Regions from separate parts of the Homo sapiens genome. Here region 2 is linked to region 1. Evidence: fine-mapped expression QTL. A gene starts in region 1. The other region holds a variant in brackets. All regions are shown on one strand. Distances are between the middles of the regions.

What was found. PIP is the estimated chance that this variant, and not a neighbour inherited with it, causes the effect.
Region 2: its variant is the best candidate, but not a certain one, in a credible set for the expression of UGT1A6 in stomach (GTEx, PIP 0.51).

The regions. Positions count from the first base shown.
Region 1 is chr2:233,691,238-233,694,152 of GRCh38, forward strand. It overlaps UGT1A6 (UDP glucuronosyltransferase family 1 member A6), which reads left to right and starts at 1,653. Exons shown (of 5, transcript NM_001072.4): 1 at 1,653-2,628. The coding sequence starts at 1,768. The region is part of intron 1 of UGT1A8 (UDP glucuronosyltransferase family 1 member A8); the gene reads left to right. The region is part of intron 1 of UGT1A10 (UDP glucuronosyltransferase family 1 member A10); the gene reads left to right. The region is part of intron 1 of UGT1A9 (UDP glucuronosyltransferase family 1 member A9); the gene reads left to right. It also overlaps UGT1A7 and UGT1A. RefSeq lists enhancers at 1-398, 399-1,005.
Region 2 is chr2:233,596,414-233,599,328 of GRCh38, forward strand. It overlaps UGT1A. Among named protein-coding and RNA genes, the nearest start is that of UGT1A8, 20 kb to the right of the region's middle. The variant C/T (reference allele first, on the strand shown) is at 1,749.

The sequences.
Region 1 (2,915 bases):
CTAGATGAACTCAAAGCAAGATGCTGCCGCCCCCATGACTTTGATCATTGTAAGCTGCCAATCCTCTTGGGAGGCTGCTCCCAGCTTGGACTGAGCTGAGTCTTCGCATGCCTTGAACAATGAATTTGCATCCTGGTTATGTTCCCCATGGGGGCCAGCCCTGTCCTTGGAGTGGCCCCTCTAATCATGTTGCTCAGGCTTCTTCTCCCTTCCTGGGCCCCAGAACACCTCCGGTGCCAAACTTGTGGGTGGGAACAGGAACTCGCGTGCCAGCCAGGTGTGCATGACTAGCTCTGGGCAAGTCTGTTCTAGTAATTCAAGGTACCACCTCTCACTGGGACAGCCTAGTTTCTACACAGGTCTTGCTCTGGGACCGCCCTCAGCAGTGTGGTTAGCAGGCAGGGCCAGTGTGACCCTCCCTTTCTGGGCCTCAGTTGAGAAACCTGAAGCTCAGGAGAGGAGTCACTCCCCTGGCAGATGGGTGGCTGGGCCAGAAGCAGATACCAGGCTTTCTGACTCCTGCTCTAGGATTCTCACCACGTACTGGCTAGACTTATACTTCTCAAATCTTAATTTCCTAAAGGCAAGTAACAGTTTGAATGTTGTTATATTGTGATGTATAATAAGAAATATATGTTTGTCTTTGTTTCCTGGACACAGCTCCTGAAACCATAAGTGGTGGGAGCGATAAACGTGAACAAAGAATCTTTTGTTATTCAAAACAGATCCCTTTCGATCACACCTAAGTTTATGTAAAGGAGATGTAAAGTCTCTAAGGATGAGGGCTAGTTGCCAGGGAACAAAACCCTTGCGATTAGAGGGAAGAAAGGAGAGAGAGATTGAAGATTGATTTGATCACCGATGGGCAACAATCTAATCAATCATGCCTACTATGTATGGAAGCCTACATAAAAACTCAGAAGGGCAGGGTTCAGAGAGCTTTCAGGTTGCTGAAGGTGTGGAGGGTGGGGCACCCAGAGATGGCAGATGGGGCTCCATGGCCATACCCCCATATCTTGTTCTTTGTACTTTTTCCTCTGGCTATTCATCCGTATTGTTTGCAATATCCTTTGTAATAAACCAAACCTAGTAAATAAACTGTTTTCTTCAGTTCTGTGAGCCATTCTAGCAAATGATTGACTCCAAGAAAGAGGGTGTGTGAACCTCTGATTTTTGCCAAGTCAGACAGAAGTTGTGGGTAACCTGGGGACCTACTACTTGCAATTGGTGTCTGAAGTGAGGGCAGTCTTGTAGGACTGAGCCCTTAACCTGTGGGGTCCGTGCTAACTCAGAATTCAGTTCAGAATGGAATTGAATTGTAGGATACCCAGCTGGTGTTAGAGAATAGGTCCGTGTGCAAGAAAAATTCCCGCACATCATGGACATAACAGACAACGTCAATGATGAGGAATCCAGCAAGTTCGGGATAGAGAATTGGCAGGGGGTCCTCAGGGGTCTCTCCAAGTCATCTTCAAAGTGTTGCTATAACTTTTCAGAGAGGGAGAAGCAGACTTGTGGAGCTGAAGAGAAACACCCAGAAGCTCAGGTGAAAGCTGACACGGCCATAGTTGGTTCATATTAACCATGTGATTAAAATGGTTAAATATTAATTTGGGTTCTTACATATCAAAGGGTAAAATTCAGAGCAAGGGAGAGGTAGACAGGACCTGTGAAAAGCAGTGGTTAGTTTAGGGAAAATACCTAGGAGCCCTGTGATTTGGAGAGTGAAAACTCTTTATTACCGTTGTTACTTTAACTCTTTCCAGGATGGCCTGCCTCCTTCGCTCATTTCAGAGAATTTCTGCAGGGGTTTTCTTCTTAGCACTTTGGGGCATGGTTGTAGGTGACAAGCTGCTGGTGGTCCCTCAGGACGGAAGCCACTGGCTTAGTATGAAGGATATAGTTGAGGTTCTCAGTGACCGGGGTCATGAGATTGTAGTGGTGGTGCCTGAAGTTAATTTGCTTTTGAAAGAATCCAAATACTACACAAGAAAAATCTATCCAGTGCCGTATGACCAAGAAGAGCTGAAGAACCGTTACCAATCATTTGGAAACAATCACTTTGCTGAGCGATCATTCCTAACTGCTCCTCAGACAGAGTACAGGAATAACATGATTGTTATTGGCCTGTACTTCATCAACTGCCAGAGCCTCCTGCAGGACAGGGACACCCTGAACTTCTTTAAGGAGAGCAAGTTTGATGCTCTTTTCACAGACCCAGCCTTACCCTGTGGGGTGATCCTGGCTGAGTATTTGGGCCTACCATCTGTGTACCTCTTCAGGGGTTTTCCGTGTTCCCTGGAGCATACATTCAGCAGAAGCCCAGACCCTGTGTCCTACATTCCCAGGTGCTACACAAAGTTTTCAGACCACATGACTTTTTCCCAACGAGTGGCCAACTTCCTTGTTAATTTGTTGGAGCCCTATCTATTTTATTGTCTGTTTTCAAAGTATGAAGAACTCGCATCAGCTGTCCTCAAGAGAGATGTGGATATAATCACCTTATATCAGAAGGTCTCTGTTTGGCTGTTAAGATATGACTTTGTGCTTGAATATCCTAGGCCGGTCATGCCCAACATGGTCTTCATTGGAGGTATCAACTGTAAGAAGAGGAAAGACTTGTCTCAGGTTGGTGGGTTTATTTCTTTTGGACTGCCTTGTTTCTTCCAGGCTCTGTCCTCCCTCACTCATTTGGCTCCTTGAGCCGACTGTCCCTTGGAGGATTTCCTGGAGAAACGGTGGGGGGAAGTGATACCCGGCTCGGAGCAGCGGGAACACATAGGAGACCTGAGGCTGAAGTGATACAGAGGCATTCGGATGAAGACAGGGCTCATGCTTGGCAAGAGTAGGAGATTTGCTTAGTTGGATAATCTGGGACAGTCACATACTCATTGAATGAGCCTTAGAAATGTCCC
Region 2 (2,915 bases), 95 kb before region 1:
CCCTAATTCTCGTGTGTTGTGGGAGGGACCCAGTGGGAGATAATTTAATCAAGGGGGTGGTTTTCCCCATACTGTTCTCCTCGTAGTGAATAAGTCTCACGGGATCTGATTTTATAAGGGGTTTCCCCTTTCACTTGGCTCTCATTTTCTCTCTTGCCTGCCACCACATAAGATATGCCTTTTGCCTTCTGCCAGGATTGTGAGGCCTCCCCAGCCATGTGGAGCTGTGAGTATCTAAGCAGCAAAGTATTCAAGAGGTGACTTGGTGCTGTTAAAGGCATTCCGTTTTAAAAGGGAAGCAGACATAAAGGTTCAGAAAGTTTGCAGTCAAACAGGCTGCAGAATTTGCATAAGTAATAAGGAGCCAAATGTTAATCCCTAATACAATGGGGAAAATGTCTCCAGGGCACATCAGAGGTCTTCATGGGAGCCCCTCCCACCACTGGCTTAGAAGCTTAGGAGGAAAAAATGGTTTCCTGGGCTGGGCCCAGGACACATTAAATCTCTTTTTAAAAAATAATTTACCCGGCCTCAAGTATGTCTTTATTAGCAGTGTGAAAACGAACTAATACAGGAGTCATCAAGAAAGGTCAGCTTCTTCATCAAGGTTGGAGGCAGTGAAAACAACCCGAGTTCCAGTCCCTTCTGTGGGACCTAGCTTCTCCTCGCTGTCCCCACTTTACATCCATCTGCCCTGCCTGAAGACCCACCCTGGGGTCCTTAAGTTCCAGCATCAGACACCAAGGCAGTTTGCAGAGATCATCCAGTCAGCTACCACCATGCATCTGGCCAATCCCTCACCATGGGTATGCACAGCAGCTCTGCTTCTCTCACTGAACCCTGACTGCTATAGGTCGGAAGTAAGGGCTGTGGCACCGTGGCACCTTGTACACTTTTTGACTTGAAATGCAAGAGGCAGAAGGGACAGGAGCAAGAGGAGAGCCTAGACCATGGCCTATTACAGTTTTTGTGGGAAAGACAGGCAGGGCAGGAGAAAGAGTTTAGGACTGGCTGGTTTGGATAATCTCAGTGGGCTCTGAGCTATAAGGCTGGGCCCTTTGCTCTCTCTAATAATTGGCTGGCTTGGAAAGGGACTCCATTCTCAGCCAGAAAGGGATTTTAAGATGTGGAAACATCATAATATACAGAAAATTAACAAATACATGCAATACAGGAAGTATGCTCTTTTTTTTTCTCATGGATAAATACCTAGCAATAGAATAGCTGTGCTTTATGATAGGTATATGTTTACCTTTTTAAGAAACTGCCAAACAATATTCTCAAGTAGCTGTGCCATCCCACCACCAGGATATGAACGGACCAGCTCTTCCTGCTCACAAGCACCTGGTGTTTTAGTCTGTTTGTGTTACTATGAATGAATACCTGAGACTGGCTAATGTATAAAGAAGAGATGTTCAGCCTTCAGTTCTGCAGGCTGTACAAGAAGCATGGAACCAACATCTGCATAAGACAATAGAGTTAGCCTATCCCTTCCTGGCTTAAATCCTGGTGCCCACTTCTCTTCCTTACTAATAAATGTCCTTTGTGGCATTTTTTTTTCTAGATAGGGCACTTTTGCATGAATTAAAAACCAGTTTGGGCAGATATTCTTTCTCCTCGAAGCTTTTCCTCATGAATTCTGGGAACTCATCTGCTGCATATGGCTTCTGTTATCTTGACATTTTTAAAGCCAAACCTCTTCCTAAAACTAGCAAACCATTCTTTGCTGCCATTAAATTCTCCAGCTT[C/T]ATATCCTTCACCTTTATTTAGCTTTGTGTTGTTATATAATGACTTTGTTTTTCTCAGGTCATAGTAGAGAATGTAGGTATGCCTTTCTTGTAACAAGCCTGTGCCCACATAAAAGCTGCATTTTTATAATAAAATTTTATTTAGATAAGCATGATACAGAATTAATCTTTGACAACTTATCTATGGATATAATGACTCTAGTTTCAGTCTTTTTCTTCTGAAATATGTGAGCTTTCCCCAACAATCTGGACTGTTTTCCTACCTTAATATTCTACTTTTGCTCTTGGATTTGTTGATAGGGTCCAGAGGACTTCCCATGGGGCTGTAAAGAACTTATTCCTCCGTGTGGACTGTGCACACCGTGGTGCTGTCATTACTGTTACCACCAAGAGACTCCTTAAACACTTAGGATATATGAGAGTCTTCACTTGGTTAAAAAAATCTGCCAGTTTCTCAGAAAGACCTTTCTCACTATTAATCTTTAACCCATGGATGGAATCCTAGATATTTTTATCCATTAACTCTTTGAATATCCTTGTTTCTACCTTGGCAGTGGAGTCTACTGAGATTGAAAAGCTGCATTTTTAATATGAGATAAAAAGGTATTTTGGAAAAAGTGCAAGGTTTGAAGCCTGCTGGCCTCACTGCAGTGATGGCTTAGTGAGTTTTCTTTTCTTTTTTTAACAATGGTCCTTATCTGGTTTCATTTTTTTTTTTTTAAATGATGGCCAACCACAGCTGCAGTCCTCAACCTATGGTACATGTCAAGCAATTCAACTTTCATTATAATATCATGAATTTCTTTGCTTCATGGGAGCACTTGAGGCATCACTAGTGACACTTTGTATGGGCACCATGGTATTATTTAGGGTTTCTGATATGCAGCAAACATGACAAACAATGCATGAGAACTGTGAGATCAGTGTTTACTATGATACACAATTTACTGGAGGGATGAACTGCACACATGGAGATGATCAGCCTCACGTGGCGTTCTGAGTGGATACTTACAACACTTGAACTCCCTGCAATAGCAACAGGGGGTGGCTATGAAATTATCGCAATAGTACAGTAGGCACAGTTAACTCTATGCACTTATGACTTAATGCTGCAACCTTACTTTTTTTACTTTTCTGTTGACTACAAATGGTGTCATGTATAGTCTG